Linked DNA regions of Homo sapiens: region 2 is linked to region 1. The links come from fine-mapping of genetic effects on gene expression. A gene starts in region 1. The other region holds a variant in brackets. All regions are shown on one strand. Distances are between the middles of the regions.

Evidence for each region. PIP is the estimated chance that this variant, and not a neighbour inherited with it, causes the effect.
Region 2: its variant is the best candidate, but not a certain one, in a credible set for the expression of PVALB in lung (TOPMed, PIP 0.56).

Annotation. Positions count from the first base shown.
Region 1 is chr22:36,812,202-36,821,187 of GRCh38, forward strand. PVALB (parvalbumin) reads right to left here and starts at 4,834. Exons shown (of 4, transcript NM_001315532.2): 1 at 4,744-4,834; 2 at 2,902-3,034; 3 at 1,445-1,554. The coding sequence starts at 4,804.
Region 2 is chr22:36,833,910-36,842,895 of GRCh38, forward strand. No RefSeq gene overlaps it. Among named protein-coding and RNA genes, the nearest start is that of PVALB, 21 kb to the left of the region's middle. The variant C/T (reference allele first, on the strand shown) is at 4,742.

The DNA of each region.
Region 1 (8,986 bases):
GTGACGTGTTCAAGGTCACAGCTGGCAAGGGGCAGAGAAGGAGCAGAGCATGGGGGTCTGGGCTTTACACTCAGGCAGCGGATGTTTATGAAGCACCTGCTCTGTGTGGGGTATTGGCTAGATACTGGGGCTAGAAGGATGAATGCAACCCAATCCCTAGTTTTAAGTTTTACATCCACTTATATGTTGGATGTAAGTGGGTAGAACGTGAAGATTCTAGACAGAAGGTACCCTTGCGAAGGGACCTAGTTTTAAAAAAATTAGCTAACAAATACATATATAACATTTACTCTGTGCCAGACACTGTTCTAGGCACTTTACATATTAACACATCTAACCCTTGTAATCACCCTGTAAGAATTATCATTCTATTCAGTTCAGAGATGAGAAAACAGAGGCTCAGAGTAGTTATCAAATTACGCAAGGTCACACAGCTCGAAAGTGGTAGGGCTGGGATTTGAACCCAGATAGCCTGGGGCCCAGAGGCCAAACACCTACACACAGTTTTCTCTGAGACCAGCAGAAAAGCCTATTATGGGAACAAATGGCAGCTTAGTATGTTGCAAACACTCATTCAGGCCTGGTTCTAAATCCCCACTCCACCGCTATGTCCTAGCTCTTTCAACTAGGCTAAGCACCTTCAAAGTCCATTTGCCCACCTGCAAAATGGAGATAATTCCGGAGAAAATCATAAGCTAAGAGAGATAGCAATGTGGGTGTGCTCCATGAATGCCACACAGAGCCAAATGGAGAAAGGAGTGGACGGTGGGCCACTGGTCTCTCACCTGTGCTGACATTGAAGCCTGCAAAGCAAGGCAGGGCCAGGTATTCCCTGTCTGAATTCCCCACTGATTTCTGGTTTACTGTTTTTCCTGGCTCTGCTGCAAGGCTAGAATAGTATATTTGAGTAAAACCCAAACAGGTTTTGAGACTTGGGGTTACAGGACACCAGGACAAGATGCTGAGGAGGACAGGAGATAGGAATTTCCATCCCTGGAATCTGAGGATGTGAGAGGCAGAGGATCCTTGGGGATTAGTCGGCCTCATTTCGTTGGATTAGAGATGGGAGACAGAGGCCCAGCGATCGAGAGACACTGCCCAAGGTCACACAGCCAGTTTGGGCAGAGGTTGGGCCAGTATCCATGCAAAAATGCAGGCAGAGTTCAGGAAAAAAAAATCCCAAATCCTCCTGGATCCCCTACCCAGCAGGAAAAACAGAATCTATTCCTTTTAGGTTTTCAAATTAGGAAAATACACCAGTTTTCCTTTGTCTGGAGTATGTGGCAGAGCTCTCAGACCTAATGGACTGCTTTTTGTCTTCTAATCTGGGGGAGTGAGGGACCCCCATATCATCCCTTCCTTGTGACAGACATAGCTTCAAACTTTTCGCATCCAACACCCCAAGATCCACAATATGCCCAGACCCCAGGTCACGGCTACCCACCGTCAACCCCAATTTTGCCGTCCCCATCTTTGTCTCCAGCAGCCATCAGCATCTTGGTTTCTTTAGCAGACAGGTCTCTGGCATCTGGGGAGAAGCCTTTTAGGATGAATCTGGAGGAGAAAAGGGAGAAAGCCGGTGAGGGAGTCAGGCCGAGGTCGCCTTGCAGGACGCTGGATGGAGGGTGGTCTGGTTTCTGTATGGGGAAAGGGATGGCTGGGACAGGCAGCGAGCAGCAGTCACGCACACGGATGCTCTGGGCCAGGTAGCCTGCTCGGTGGCTGTGCTTTCGTGGGTGAGTATTTAGGAAAGGACAGGCTGTCCTCAGTGAAGGGTTGTCCTCACTTCAGGGAGGGCACCTACATTCGTTAATTTATCCAACAAGTATTCACTAAGTGTCATTTCTGTGTCTGGCGTATGCTGGAAAGTGGGGTCACAGTGGTGATCTTCGGAAGGCACTGGAAAAAATAAGGAGGTCACGGGCTCCGAGAGAGACCACACAGTGTGATGGGCCGTGGAGGAGGGCACTCAGAAGCTGTATCTGCCCACCTGCGGTGAGGGGAGGAGAGGGGAGGCTTCCTGGTGAAGGTGATACCTGGAGGACAGGGGGAAGTCAGCCTCTGTGAGTGTGTGTGTGTGTGTGTGTGTGTGTGTGTGTGTGTGCATAAGTGTGCATGCATGTTGGATGTAAGTGGGTAGAACGTGAAGATTCTAGACAGAAGGTACCCTTGTGAGATGGTTTAGGGGAGAGACAGGATGGGTGGGGAAGTCCCTACTTGAAAGGCCTCTCCCTACACCCACCCCCCGCTTCTCTTTTTGACAAAACTCAAGGCTTTCTTGGCCAGAAAGTGACATAAGGCAACCTGAGTCAGTAGACATGGCCGGGTGGCTGAGGGAATTATGGTGGGAGATGCTTTTGCAGATGGAGGCATGCATTTTCCTAGCCACAGCCTTCTCCTTCTCTGCTTTTCTCCAAGGACCCCTGGACTCTCAGAGGTGGTTCTGCATCCCTGGCTTGCCTAGAAATTGCACCAGCCACACTAGTACCAGAGGGCTGGGGGCTGCAGGAAGGTGGAAAGTGTCTTTTAGACAAATGAAAATCAATGAAATACTCAAGTGAATGCTTTCTGCCCTGCCTATGGTGTTAGGCAGCAAGAAAACTGCCTCTTCATTTGCATTAAATTATTAAGTAGCAACATTCCATTAGCAATATTAAGTGGCTATCATTTAACCTAGTTAGTTGCACTTTCAGCTGAGGGTTTTACTCTTCCGAAGCAATAGCACCAGGAAGCCTTCTCCCCTGGTGCCCTGGGTCGGAGCCCTGCCTTCACGCACGGTTACTTTCTGTGAAGCAGGCAGAGTGAAAGGCAGGTCTGATGGACACTTGGAAGCTAGAGTCCCAGCCCCCACTCCCTCTCGTGCAGCCGTGGGCTGGGCAGCCCCTGCAGGCCTCCGCTTACCCCAGCTCATCCTCCTCGATGAAGCCACTTTTGTCCTTGTCCAGCATGTGAAACACCTTCTTCACATCATCCGCACTCTTTTTCTTCAGGCCGACCATTTGGAAGAACTTTTTGTGGTCGAAGGAGTCGGTAGCTGTGGGGGGAAGAGCAGGGTCAAACAAGGACCAGAAAGGCTGGTAGGGAAGCCTGGGAGAATGGGGGGCATCAAGGCATTTGTTGATGGATTCCCACATGCCAGTCATGGGGAATGAGAGGTACCCACCTCCATTGGAGGGCTGAGGGAGCCCGGGCAAGGGAGGATAACCTGTCCAAGGTCACAAGGCTGGGAGTGGAAGAGGTGTGCTCAAACCCAGACCTCCCTGGCTCTCAAGCCCGCCCCCACGCCCCACCTCCACTGCACCCATTGCTGATGATGGGAGCAGCACCTAAGAACCAAAGGCTTTTGTTCTTCTGAGAACCTTGTGCCCAGGAAGACTTTTGAGTGCCAGCTGGTTGGGAGTGGGCTGGGGAATTGAAGGGGGCATGAACATGGTCCTGGGGTTAGGGGGAGGAGGGTTGACCTTCTTTCTTGGCCACAGACTTTGTTGCCAGAAAATTGACATAGAAAGGACAGGTTTCCCTCAAGGTCATACAGTGGGAGGAGGAGGGGCAAACCCGGAAGTCCTGGCTCTGCGCAGAAATCCACTTCGGAGGCAGTGGGAAGGGGGTGTTAGGAGGCTCCCGAGAAACACCCAGTTAAGTTTCTTCCCACATGGGCTTGAGGTGAAGGGAGAGGGTTATCCCAGGACCCTGGGAGGGTGGCTTCCCAGAGAGGTTCTTGTGCCCAGGGGAGGGGGTGCAAAGCAGAAAGGAAATGGGGGTCCTTTTCTACCTGCAATTTTCTGTATCTTGGGGTCCTGTTTTAGAACACCTGGGGAAGGGTACAATGTTAGATCATGTATTTTGTGTGTGTGTGTGTGTGTGTGTGTGTGTAGGGAATGGCTGTTGAAGTCATGTTCTCTTCCCCTCAGCACAGGGCTAGAGACAAGGAAAGTTGCCCTGTCCACCTCCGACACTAGGCTGGGCAACCCAGTTCTAATACCCCTTCTGCCCAGCTAGGTGACCTTGGGCAAATGTCTTGTCCTCTCCAAGACAGTTCCCTGATTTCCCCATCTGGAGGACAGGGGAGGAGGAAGGCGGGCAGCTTAGCGCTGAAGTCCCGGGCAGCTGGGAGAGGTGAGACTGCCAGTTCCCCTCCCCTGCCCGCCTAAGGAGGCTGGAGGTTTGAGGCACTGAGGATGCCCCGTGCGGGCTTAGGCAGAGCTGTGCGCCGGCTCCAGAAGGTCACCTCGCCCGCAGGTCCGTTGCTGAATCTCAGTAAAGGAACTAGGACAGTCAGGGGGCCAACAAAGGCTACCGCCTGGCGGGAAAAGTCCTGTCCAGAATGAGGGTCCAGGAAAGGGGTCTCTTGGAGAGGAGGATGCCCCCTGCAGTCCCCTCTAAGTGCCTTAAAGAGGACGTCCAGAGAGCTCGTACAAGGACCCTGGAGGTCTCTCCTCCGACCCTGGTCTTCGCCCTTGGTCCCGGACCCTGAGTCCTCCCAGCCACCGGGCCTTCAGCACCCTCAAGTTTCTGTAACTTAGGCGGGGCGCCCTCTTCCCCGCCCGCTCCCCGCGCCAAGCCTCGCCCGGACAGAGTTTGGGAACTGCCAAGGACGCCCCCGCCCCGACCTCGCCGGCGCCCAGCGGGAAGTGTGGGCAGAAGCGCGCTGGGGAGGATCCGCCGGCTGCGGGGCCGGCGGAGTGCAGGGGCGCGGGCGGTGGACGAGGGGAGAGGGATGGGGAGGGGAGCGCGCTTGCTCACCGCTAAAGGCTCCCACCGCCTTCTTGATGTCCTCAGCGTTCAGCAAGTCTGTCATCGACATCCTGCAACTGTTTGAGCGGGCAGAGCAAGTGCGAAAAGATTAAAAAGTGCTTTTCTCATCATTTCTGCTCATATGACCAGCGCTGCAGTGCTGCGCGCCGGGCGCACGCCCGCCGGGCCTGGCATGGCGCCAGGGGCCCGGACTCTGAGCGCAGCGGGAGCGGCTCAGTCCAGCCGCGCCGCTGAGCAGCGCCGGCCGCCGGCAAGAAGGCGCGCGGACCTGCTACCACTCCTGCACCGCCAGGCCAGGGGTCCGCGGGATCCCAGGGGCTGCGGCCAGGGCACGAGGGAAGGGGCCACCTCTGGGATTTAGGGGGCACTGGCGTCACCAGCTGGGTCTGGAAAGTCCACCTGCCGTCAAGGACACGCAGGAGGTGCGCCGTCTCAGATCTGGGAACCTTGGCGGATGTCCTGCCGCGTGGGGGAAGATCCTGAACCTTCAGCGGCCAGCCTGCACCTCAGGACCTCCTAGGCCCTGCTCCCTTTCTCTCTCCACTCCTACCTCAGCCTCTGCTCTGGTCTGTCCTGGATGCAAATTTATGCTGCAAAATCTGAGCGCTGAGGTCCTGAAACCTGACCCACCCGACGCAGGGAGGAGGTGGCAGGGACAGGGACAGGGACAGGCAGGAGCTGCTGGGGCCCACTTCGGGTGCCCCATCCCACATCTGGCCAGGGATGCATATTCTAAAACCTGATTTGATGTTTTACTTTTATTTTTTATTTTTTTGCTGGCTTGATTTTTCGAAGAACACTTCTCAGATCTCTACTAACTACTTGCTTTCCTGGTCTCCTGGGTCCTGGCATCATGGGTCCAGACTCCCCCTACTCCTATAAACCTTTTTTGGGCAGAGTAGGGTGGGAGAGTCCGCTTGGAATTGCTATGCTCCCTCCCAGAAAGCCCCATATGTGTTTGGAAGAAGGGTAGCACCTTCAGACCACACTTTCTAGACAACCTAAGCAGGTGTAGGGGTCTGAACTTCACCTCTGGAAAAATGTCACGGTGCCTATCTGTATGCAGCCAGAGACCCGTTGTGTTCTTCCCCATGGTTCCCAAGGTTTCAAGCTGCAACCAGCTGCTTCTAGAGTGTGTGAGCGCTGGACAGGGAGTCAGGAGGCCTGGGTTCTAGATCCTGGGCTGCACTAAGTCCCAGTGTGACCTTGGGTTGTGACCTTCTCTGGGCTTCTGTCTCCTTCTGATGTGTTGATGACGTCAGTGGTCCCATGTAGTGGGACCTGGGGACTGCAACTTAAGGTATTGGCAGGTAGGCAGGGCCTTGGGCTGTGGTGGCCCTGGGTGGTGGGGACCAGGGAGAGCAGCTGTCCAGCTGCCCAGTAACTCAAGTTCCCTGACATCGCTGTCAACATTGTCTCCTGCAGCTCAGCCCTGGATGGCTGCCCTTCCTGGAAACCTTAGGATACCTCTGCTGGCTCCAGCTGCCCCCTCCCTGTGAGTCAGCTCCTTCAAGCCACAGCCCGCCAGATGGCTTCCAAGGCACCAAGGATGCAGCTCCTGACCTGATGCCTCTCAGCTCCAGGACTTCCCAGGACCCCTCAGCTGCCCTGGACCCTGCTGCTACTGCCGTCACCTCTGCACCTTGTCCCCAGCTGGGCTGCTGACTCAGATATGCCAGGCTCCTATGCTATCATTTCAACTCCCAGGCTCAGCTCACTCCAGGAGCCTAGTTGGAGAATGGATTTCCCCAGCTGAAGGACGCTTCAGCTATACCAGTGGAGAAACGGAGGCACAGAGTCCGTGAATGGTCTAAGGACACATGGTAAAGCAATAGCAGAGCAGGGTACACCCCTGGACTCACTCGTGTGGAGTTCAGTGACTCTCTGGGTGATCCTCCCTGGTGCCTGGGACCCAGCTCTATCAGGTCCCATACATCTCAGCCACACACTGGCTCCTGGTGAGCCCCTAAGCAGCTACCCTGTGGCAAAGGCTGCAGCCTCAACAGGGGCCCACTCTTCTTCCATCTCCTTCCTCCATCTCTCCCTGCTGCTGAGTTCTCCTATCAACTTGACACCCCCTCCGGGACTGAGCCCTCCCAGCCAGAGCATCAATGTCATTAGGTCAGCCCATCAGCCCTGGGTAGTCCTCCTCTGCCCTCTGGGTCCTCTCTGATGGCATCACCAGAGTCCACAGATGTCTGACTCCAGCCCTCTCGTTCTAAGGCTGGGGAATCTGAGGCCCAGCCACGGGGGGCGGTGGGTGGGGGGAGTTTGCCCCAGGCCACACCAGGAGTCTGGGTGGAGAAGCAGGAATGCATGCTCTCAGCCCTACATTCCACAGCTGCCCTGCCTCCAGCACCCCCACCGCACCCCCCTCCCCGGGTCACTACGGACAGGGGAGATGTAGCTCTCCCTTCCAGCTGGCTCATCCTGCTGCATCCCTCTATCCTCCAACCTCGGTAGCTGCCACTCACCTCGGGTGGGGGTGGAGGGCTGGAGCCTGCACTGAAAGGCTGGGCTGGTGGGAAGTCCTGTCGGGAAGTGAGCCTGGAGGTGGGATGGCCACCTATATAGGCTTCTGCTCTGGCTATTTTGGGAGGTGGCACTCCCCGTAGCCCCGGCCCCCTCCCCTTCCGGTGTCAGGTACTCCCCAACCGTGGTGCTGGGTGTCTGTATCACATTCAGCCTCCCTGGGCCCATCAGGCCAAGACTATTAATAACTCTTGGCCCCTGCTTCCCTCCAGCACCCAAAATTGAGGCCCAGGCAGGGCTCGCCTCTTCCATGAAGCCTTCCGTGACCACTGTAGATGGCAGCGATGCTTCCTTCCTCCATATTCTGCCAGGAAAGGAAGAGAAACAGCAAGGAAAAGAATGAAACAAGAACTGTCCTCTGTGCATGGGGCTGAGCCCCATTCCTATGCTGATATGATCTCTCACTACAGCCTTGCCAGGTAGACATAGCTGCTCTCGCACAGATGAGGAAACAGCATAAAGACGTTAGATGTTAAGTGACCTGCTGCTCAAAGCCACGGGCCTGGGGTTGGGAGCGGACTCAGCACTTTTGTGCGAGGATCTAGTGCCTGGTAGAAGGAAATGTTCCGCATATTCTCAGACAAGTCCCTTCCTCTCTCTTTCTCAGTCTTTCCACCTGTAACATGAGCTCAATCAGAGGTAAACTGTGCCCTATAGATGGTCTAGGGCGAGGGGAAGATGGACCCCCTGAAATTGTATGCGTGTGACATTGAGGCACAAAGGCCCAAGCCCTTCATGATTTGCAAAGAGATCTCTGACATTGTCTGTTTTGGATTGGAGAGGACCAGCTGAGGGATGTGTTTTGAGAAGCATGAATGACCAAATGAATTCAATAAATACGTAGTGAATATCTAATCTGACCACCATGAAATGTTCCTCTCCTCATCCCTAACCTGAAAAGAATCTCCAGGGCACGAAGATTGTCAATGGTGGGGTCTAGTTCTTCACAGTGACACGAGGAATCCCAGGCTCCATGCAAAGGCTGTTTGGAAGCTCCATGGATAGAAAGGGCCGAGGGCAGGCTGCATGGGGGAAGCTGGGACTGGGGCCTCCTTGAGGTGTGGTGCTGGGGCCTGAGCTAGGTTGCTGGTGGTGGCAACAGGAAGGAGTGTGCAGATAGGGGAGCACCTCTTGGAGAGAAGCTTCCAGAATTGGGGCTGTGGCATGAACAAGAGGGACAAATCCAAGCTGACCCTAAATATTCAAGGTGGGGTTTGCTGAAGAAGGAAGGTGTTGACTTTGAAGGCAGGGAGTGTAGGGAGGAGGTAGTGCTCAGTCGAAGGGATGATAGAGTAAGTGGTGTTGAATCCTAGGATGTTAGGGCTGGGACAGCCTCCGTGGTGATCGGCTACAAACTTCTACAAATGACATCATGTTATAGATGAAGAAACCAAGGCCAGGGTGACTTACCCAAATCCCCCAGAGAGTAGTGGAAGAGCCAAGAGCTGATGCTGGGTTTAGGGGACCTGAAGGACACCCTGGCGGAGATGTGTCTGAACTCTGGAGTGAGGTCAGGGCTGGACCCTGGGGGCTTTGTCATCAGAGAAGTCAAGGAGTTGATCTCGTCAAGTCGTGGGCATGGCTGAGCTCAGGGAGCCGGGATGCAGGAGAACCTTGAGGATGAACCCTTGAGGAAGATCGCTGGCTGGGGCCTGGGAAAATAATTACACTTGTTTGTTGAACAGTGTGCTGGGTTCTG
Region 2 (8,986 bases), 22 kb after region 1:
GCTGAGGCAGGAGGATCACTTGAACCTGGGAGGTGGAGGTTGCAGTGAGCTGAGATCACACCACTGTACTCCAGCCTGGGTGACAGAGTGAGACCCAGTCTCAAAAAAGAGAGAGAGAGAGAGAGGACTGTTTTAAGCCAGGAAGCCACCCCAAGGGATGCTCATGACATATAGGCAAGACAGCCAACAGCCCACTCAGATTTACCCTGGGTGTGGTAAGTAACAGGGATAATACCCCACATTTCGCATTTCACAGAGGGAACATACAGACCCTAATAAGTAAAGAAACTTCCCTAGACCTCAGAGATAGGCTCATTTTATTTTAAAAATTTAATAGATATGAGATAAAACTAGTATAGTAGAATGGTCATGGCCAATCCACAGCAGTGGGTACATGGTGCTCATTTTAAAATTCTTTCAACTTTTCTGTAGGTTTGAAAACTTTCATAATAAAATATTAGAAAGATTTTAAGTTTAAGTTTATGTTTAGAATAATTAATACATTTATATGCTTCAAAATTCAAAAGGTACAAGAGTTAAACAGTGAAAAGTCTTCCTCTTGCCTCTTCTCAGCCACGCGCTTCCCTCCCCAAAGGCAGCCAATGTTAGCAGCTTCTGCTGATGGCTTTCCTGAGCAGAATATGTGTGTATACAGCAATTCCAAACAGATGCGGTTCTCCCCATTTATAGCATTAGACACTGACATGGTGACAAGGATTTCCTCCACACCAGCTGAATGCTTTGCATGATTATCTCATTTCATTCTCCTAACAACCCTGTAAGGGAGACATCATTATCCCCAGTTTATGGATAAGAAAACTAAAGTTCAGAGGAAACATGAATTATTACAGATCCCATGGATAATAATTGGAAAATCGTTAGGATGTAAACCTAGGTTTTTATTTTATTTTATTTTATTTTATTTTATTTGTAGAAATGGGGTCTTGCTATGTTGCCTAGGCTGGTCTTGAACTCGAGCTCAAGCGATCCTCCCAAAGTGCTGGGATTACAGGCGCCAGCAATCAAGCCTGGCCAGAACATTGATTTTTTTGACCTCAAATCCTGTGCAATGAGCCACCATATCGTCGTACAGGTATGTGGACTTGTACCTTGTCCACAGGGTGTGGGAGTAGAGTCTCATAGATGGAGCAAGAAATGAGAGCTCACACACCACCATGAGAACCAGCGTCTGCTGGTGTTAGAGGCTCCAGCACATCCTAATTTTCCCTGAGCGTCTTTTCCCAGCAATGTCTCTGGAATGGAAGTAGGTACACATGCGTACTTAAATATGTACCTATTTCCATATGGTTACTTAAATATGTACCTATTTCTATTCCAGAGACATTGCTTGGGAAATGTGATAAGTGTCACATCAACTGAATGGGGATAACCAGAAAGTAATGTACCTCCCCCTGCCCTGGCTCTGATGTTGTAGGTCTAGTCCTTTCCCTAGTCCTGGAGGAAATCTTTTTACTCAGGTAATAAAAAGCTTTCCGTGCTGGTGGCCACACATATCTGTCAGTTAGATAACTAGCATGTCCAGTCTTGTTTAATAATCAAAACCCCAAACTCTGTTCAGAGGTAAAGCTTTGCCCCTGGCCTAGCTGGAGCCTGGTGTGAGGGGAACCTGTGGTGGGAAAGGGGGACGTGTCACCACCTTGAGCTTCCAGTGGCAGCCAAAATCCTAGCTGAGTGCAGTCATATGAGTGACCCCAGATGGCACCAGCAGCAGCAAAGCGACTATCCGGCTACCAACCTGAAGAGTCCTTACAGATAATCTACCATTGAAGATTGATGTTTAGGGTGGGTTTTCCATGGTAATAGACCATTGAACTACACCTAACAGTTTCTCTTTAGGGTTGGGGATCATAGTACCCCAAGAGCTCTCTCTAAAGAACAACCTGCATACTTCGACTTCTCTACCTCTGCAATTTTAACCCTTTTATACCTTCCAATGCATGAAAAGCCAAGAGCCATGAAACTGGTTTTTTACCTTCTCCTTTGCAAGTCCAGCATGAGGGGTCTAGAACAGGGCTTAGCAAACTATAGTCTGTGGCCAAATGAGCCATGGCCCACAAAACCTGTTTGCTATCTGGCCCTTTAAGAAAAAAATGTCCCGTTTGAAATATGCAGGCAACAGTGTCTGATGGGCAAGGCTCGTGTCTGGTGCTCATCTGTATCAGTCCGCATGGACTCAGTTGTGCTGCAGTAACAAACAATCACGCAAGTTTCAGGGACTGGAATCTCACTTTGGAATGTGAGAACAGGTGGCAGCTCTTATCATAGACCCTCAGCTAAAACTGAGATGGAAATAATTGCATTATAACAGACCGTTACAGATGTTTGATGAATAGAGCATTCCATGGCCAAATACATTCAAGAAATGCACTGTGGATCACCCCTGTAATCCCAGCCCTTTGGGACGCTGAAGTGGGCAGATTATCTGAGGTCAGGAGTTCAAGACCAGCCTGGTCAACATGGTGAAACCCCATCTGTACTAAAAATACAAAAATTAGCTGGGCATGGTGGCATGAGCCTGTAATCCCAGCTACTCGGGAGGCTGAGGCAGGAGAATCGCTTGTACCCAGGAGGTGGAGGTTGCAGTGAGCCGAGATTGTGCCACTGCACTCTAGCCTGGGTGACCGGGCGAGACTCTGTCTCAAAAAAAAAAAAAAAAAAAAAGAAATACACAATGGAAAAATAAAAGGCAAACAAGATTCTTTCATTGAGCCTTCTCTCCAAGGTGGGAAGAAGAGGCCTGTAACGTCCTATTGTCCTATAGCTCCTGGACCCTTTCAGCTGGAGCATCCCCCGTGACAACTGGGGAACTCCTGTTGCCAGATGCAGGATGGTGGACGTGAGAGAGGCAGCTGGAGCCAGGCAGAGTTTCTCCACCCTGTGTCTTCATCTTAGCCTTTCTGCCCTCTTTCTTCCTTAGAGTTATCTGGCTGTCTGCTCATCTGGTCATAAACCGTTTTGTTCATATTAGGCCATGAGAAATGTGCAGTTCTTGGGTGGGGGGAGATGAGGAGGGAGGCTGGGGATTTTGCTTTTGAAGAATGCAAGGAAAGGACAAAGTTGAATCTAGTGATCTCACTTTCTTTCTCTTTTGTCACCATCAAAGCTGTGATTTGCCACTTAGCCCCCTCGAAACAGTTTCGTGGTTTGCTGGAGTTACTTCTGAGCAGATTTATTTATGATCAGAAGGAATATTTTATACCAGGAGGAAATTAATTCTGCTCAGCCTTCCTGCACATTCCTTTGACATGACAGGCTCCTCTTTTGAGGGCTGTTTTAACCTCTAGCTTCTCCCTTTGATATATTCAGGAGGCCCCAAAAATGCTGAGCCATCATCCTCACTCCTGATGGCCTTGCCATCATTCTGAGAACTAAAAAAGAATTAAATTGCAGTGGAAATGGTCACAGAATGCTCTTTTCTCTTTGGAAAGCTAATGTTAATTTGGAGTGAGATTTATGTAGGAAGCTTAAGGAATCTGTTAAAAGAAACATTGAGTTGATTTTCTAATTGACCACCATGTTGCATTTACATGTGTGACATCTGCAGATGCTCCAATAGTACGACTACACACATAAAGCTTTAGTGATTTGGTGATTGCCAAAAAGGCAGTATTTTTTCTGATTGGCATAATTTCTACCTCCAATTTACTGGAACACTGGGCATGACTGAGACGCCTTTTTAGTGATGTCTGCTGTTCTGCATGTTCAATAAACATAAAATTGAGAGGCTTGGCCATGGTTGTGTATGTGCAGCATCTGTGATCCAAGTGGAATTTAATGGTGGAATTGGGGCTTAACAATGGAATCCTGGGAGTGATATTTGGGCCTCAGGGCCCTTACTCTGCAGAAATGAGTGATGGGGCCTGTATTAGTCCATTTTCACACTGCTGATAAAGACATACCTGAGACTGGACAATTTACAAAAGAAAGAGGTTTATTGGACTCACAGTTCCACATGGCTGGGAGCCCTCAGAATCATGTCAGAAGGTGAAAGGCACATCTCATATGGAGGCAGACAAGAGAAGAGGACTTGTGCAGGGAAACTCCCCTTTACAAAACCATCAGATCTCGTGAGACTTATTCACTATCATGAGAATAGCAGGGGAAAGATGCGACCCCATGATTCAATTATCTCTCACTGGTCTCTCACACAACACATGGGAATGATGGGAGCTGCAATTCAAGATGAGATTTGGATGGGGACACAGCCAAACCATATCAGAGCCTATTCATATGGAGCCGACTCTGTGTGTGTGTGGTGTGTGTGTGTGGGGGGGGGGGGTGGTGTGTGTGTGTGTGTGTGTGGGTGGTGTATGTCTGTGTGTTTGTATGTGCGTGTGGGCAGTGTGTGGGGGCAGTGTGTGTGTGTGTGTCTGTGTATGTGTGTGTGTGTGGTGTATGTATGTGTATGTGTGTGTGTGATGTGTGTGTGGGGGGGTGGTGTGTGTGTATGTGTGTGTCTGTGTGTGTGTGGTGTGTGTGTGTCTGTGTGTGTGTGTGTGAGTAAGGTTGTCAAGTTAGCAACTGGTCAGGCTCCTCCTGGGCTGGTCCCTGCCTGTCTTCAACACCACCTGGGTGGTCCCTGCCTGTCTTCAACACCACCTAGGTGGTCCCTGCCTGTCTTCAACACCACCTGGGTGGCGTGTGTGTCTCACGGCTGTTATGCTGCCTGAGCCTGTGTGTGACTGGAGCAGGAGCTGGCATTTCTCCAGCCCCTGTTGTC[C/T]GCCAGGTGTTTTGTGATGCTTTCTAATTGTTTCTCCTGGGAGCCTCCTCGCAAGCTGGTGCTGGGCTGCACTTTTGGCCAGCCTCGGTGTGCTGGCCAGTTCAACTCAGGAGCCTTCAGCACTGAGGGCCAGCCCCAGTCTGCGGTGTCTGCCCAGGACGGCCAGTCCCTGCCAATCCGGCAGGTCCTCAGAGGCCAGGCTGAGCAGCTGGGGCCTTGCAGCAGGACACAGGGTCACAGCTGGACCCAAGCAGAGAGCCTGCTGGGCCTGAGTGTCCAGGTGTGAGGGAAGGGCTTCCTCCCTCCAGAGAACAGGGATGCAGGTTCCAGCCAGGTAGACCTTCCTGCTTTGTGAGTGTGTCCAGAGCAGGGAGAGTTTCACCCACAAACCCAATATGTGACAGGAGCAGCATAGGGCATACCCACTCTGCTCACTCAAAGGATCCCCAGGAGCTGCTCTGGGGTGCCTGAATTCTCACCATCACAGGCTGGAGTGCAGTGGTGCTATCTCGGCTCATTGCAACCTCCGCCTCCCAGGTTCAAGCTATTCTCCTGCCTCAGCCTCCTGAGTAGCTGGGACTACAGGCATGCACCACCATGCCCTGCTATTTTTTTTCTTTCTTTTTTTTTTTTTTTTTGGTAGAGACGGGGTTTCATCACGTTGGCCAGGCTGGTCTCAAACTCCTGACCTCAGGGGATCCGCCTGCCTCGGCCTCTCAAAGTGCTAGGATTACAGGCATGAGCCACTGCGCCCGGCCCATCAGTTCTTTTTCACCATCAATCCACGTCTGACCTTTCCTGTGCCTAAGCTGTCATAGAGGGTAAATGCAAACCAAACACACTTCAGATGGAAAACACCTCACCCTTCTCCCAATTCTCAAACCTTGACTCACTTCCCATAGCACATGGAGGAGAATGCTAGCATCTTCCCACAACTCGCTCCACCTCTCCTCCCACCCAGCCCTTCCTCCTTCACTGCTAGTTGCCCTGCTGGTTCTAGAACATGCCTTGGAACCTTCTCCCCCAGATACCTACATGGCTGTGTCTAGGACCTCATTCCAGTCTCTACACAAATGTCACCTCATCAGAGGCCTTCCCCGGCCACCATGTCCGAAGAGACACCCAGCCCTACCCTCACTTCTCTCTCTATCTGCTTCCCTTGCTCCGAGGCTCTCTTGCTGCTCAACTGTGGATTATACATTCATTTGTTCCTCATTTCTCTCTGTCACGAGAAAGAAAACCTCAGGTGTTTCCCCACTGCCACAACAGTGCCTGTCAATAATTGAGCCCTCAGTAAATACCTGTAGAATGAAAGGAAGAATCTTTTCAATGGTGGAAGTAACTCAATACACCCATGGTCCTCCAGTGGCGGGACCCTAGTGCTTCTGAGGGAAGGAAGATGCTGCTGTGGCCAGATTCCAGGAGGGAAGGGAGAGCATGACCCCCAGCCCTCAGGACAGATGGGGCGTGGCTGCTCCCACCATGGCTCACTGAAGTGCATCTGATACACCGTGTTTGCCACTCCAAAGTTTAATTTAGCTGATGTCTTGGCTGTGAGCAACAGCTGGTAAATTTAGTTGGGGGATTAAGAAACGTATAAGATGCATAGCTCCTTAAAAGGAGCTGGATGTCAGGGGAAAACGAAAGCCAGGTGCATCCTGAATTTGGCTGTGAAAGGCGGGGCAGCCACCTTCTTGGAGCAGGCCAAGGGGCTGTGTTTGCTGAATCTTCTGAGGGGCGGCATCTCCACATGGAGGTGGCGGAGGGCGAGCCTGGGGACACATCCAGTGGCTGCCATGTCACCTAGCCACCCAGGAAATTCCTTCAACCTGCTGGCAAGGATAGGGACAGCTCTGAAGACATGAGTCTGCCCAGAAACCATAAACAAATAGATTGACAAACATTACTGTAGCAAATTAAAACTTGTGTGAGAGTTAAAAAAAAATGCCATGGACCAAGTTCAAAGCAAACAACAAAATGGCCAAATAATACTTTCAGACAAGTGCTAGAAAAAAGACCAATGCTGTTGATTTACAAATAGCTCATAATCAATAAGAAAAAGATGAACAGTCCAATAGAAAGGAGGGTCCTAAGGCACAGACAGGAGGCCAATAATACAAATGCAAAATACAAAAGGCCAATAAATGTATGAAAATATACTCAGCCTCCTCTGCCATCAGAGAAATACAAACCAAAATCAGAGACTTTTTTAACTTATCAGATGGTCAAAAATGTTTAAGTACAGTTGTATTCAGTGATGGCAATGAATTAAGAAAATGTAAATTTCTATTTTAGGAGGGAAATTTTGAGATTTCCATCCAAATTAAAAATGCACATGTGGCTGGGCATGGTGGCTCACGCCTGTAATCCGAGCACTTTGGGAGGCCAAGGTGGGTGGATCCCTTGAGGTCAGGAGTTCAAGACCAGCCTGGCCAACATGGCGAAACCCCATCTGTACTAAAAATTCAAAAATTAGCCGGGCATAGTAGCAGGTGCCTGTAATCCCAGCTACTTGGGAGGCTGAGGCAGGAGAATTGCTTGAACCTGGGAGGCCGAGGTTGCAGTGAGCTAACACCACTGCACCCACAGTCCAGCCTAGGTGAAAGAGCAAGACTCCATCTAAAAAAAAAAAAACAAAAGAAAAAGCTGCACATGCCCTTTGTTCCAGCAATTCCACCACTAGGAGGTAAGCCTCCAAATATTCTTTTATTTTTAATGTATTATATGACTTTATTATATGAATAAATGTATGAATAGTCTCCCAAATGAATGTTCATTTCAAAATACAAGCACACCTCCTTTGATTGGGTTCTGCTTTGTTGCACTTTGCAGATATTGGATTTTTCACAAATTGAAGTTTTGTGGCAACCTTGCACCCAGGAAGTCTATCGGTGCCATTTTTCCAAGAACGTGTGCTCACTTCATGTCTCCGTGCCACATTTTAGTAATTCTTGCAATATTTTCAGCTTTTTCATTATTATGATATCTGTTATGGTGGTCTGTGATCAGTGATCATTGATGTTACTATTGTAATTGCTTTGGGGCTCCATGAGCCATGACTATGTAAGATGGCAAACTTAATCGATACATGTTGTGTGTGTTCTCACTGCTCCATGGAATGGCCATTCCCTCTCTCTCTCTCTATTCCCTGAGACACAAAGGTATTAAAATTATGCCAGTTAATAAGCCTACAATGGCCTCTAAGTGTTTAAATGAAATGAAAAGTCCTGTCTCTTACTTTAAATCAAAAGCTAGAAATGGTTCAACTTAGTGAGAAAGGTATGCCAAAAGCTGAGATAGGCCAAAAGATGGGCACCAGACAGTTAGATCAGTTGTGAATGCAAAGGAAAAGTTCTTGAAGGAAATTAAAAGTTCTACTCCAGTGAGCGCACGAATGATAAGAAAGTGAAACAACCTTATTGATGATATGGAGAAAGTTTGAGTGGTCTTGATAGAAAGTCAAACCAGCCACAACATTCCCTTAAGCCAGAGCCTGATCCAGAGCAAGGCCCTACTTGTCTTCAATTCTGTGAAGGCTGAGAGAGGTGAGCAAGCTTCAGAAAGAAGCTTGAAGGTAGCAGAGGTTAATGCATGAGGTTTAAGGAAAGAAGCTGTCTCCATAACATAAAAGTGCAAGGTGAAGCAGCAGGTGCTGATGGAGAAGCTGCAGCAAGTTATCCAGAAGATCTGGCTAAGGTCATTGATGAAGGTGGCCACACTAAGTAAGATATTTTCCATGTGGATGAAACAGCCCTCTGTTGGAAGAAGATACCATCTAGGACTTTCATAGCTAGACAGGTGAAGGCAATGCCTGTTTTCAAAGCTTCAAAGGACAGGGTGACTCTATTGTTACGGGCTAATGCAGCTGGTGACTTTAAGTTGAAGCCAGTGCGCATTTACCATTCTGAAAATTCTAGGGCCCTTAAGAATGATGCTAAATCTACTCTGCCTGTGCTCTATAAATGGAAAAATAAAGCCTGGATGCAGTACATCGGTTTACAGCATGGTTTGCTGATCATTTAAACCCACTATTGAGACCTATTGCTCAGAAAAAAAGATTCGCTTGAAAATATTACTGCTTATTGATAATGTACCTGGTTACCCAAGGGCTCCGATGGAGTACAAGGAGATTAATGTCGTTTTCATGCCTGCTAACACAACCATTCTGCAGCCCATGAATCAAGGAGTAATTTCAACTTTCAAGTCTTATTATTTAAGAAACACATTTTATAAGGCTACAGCTTC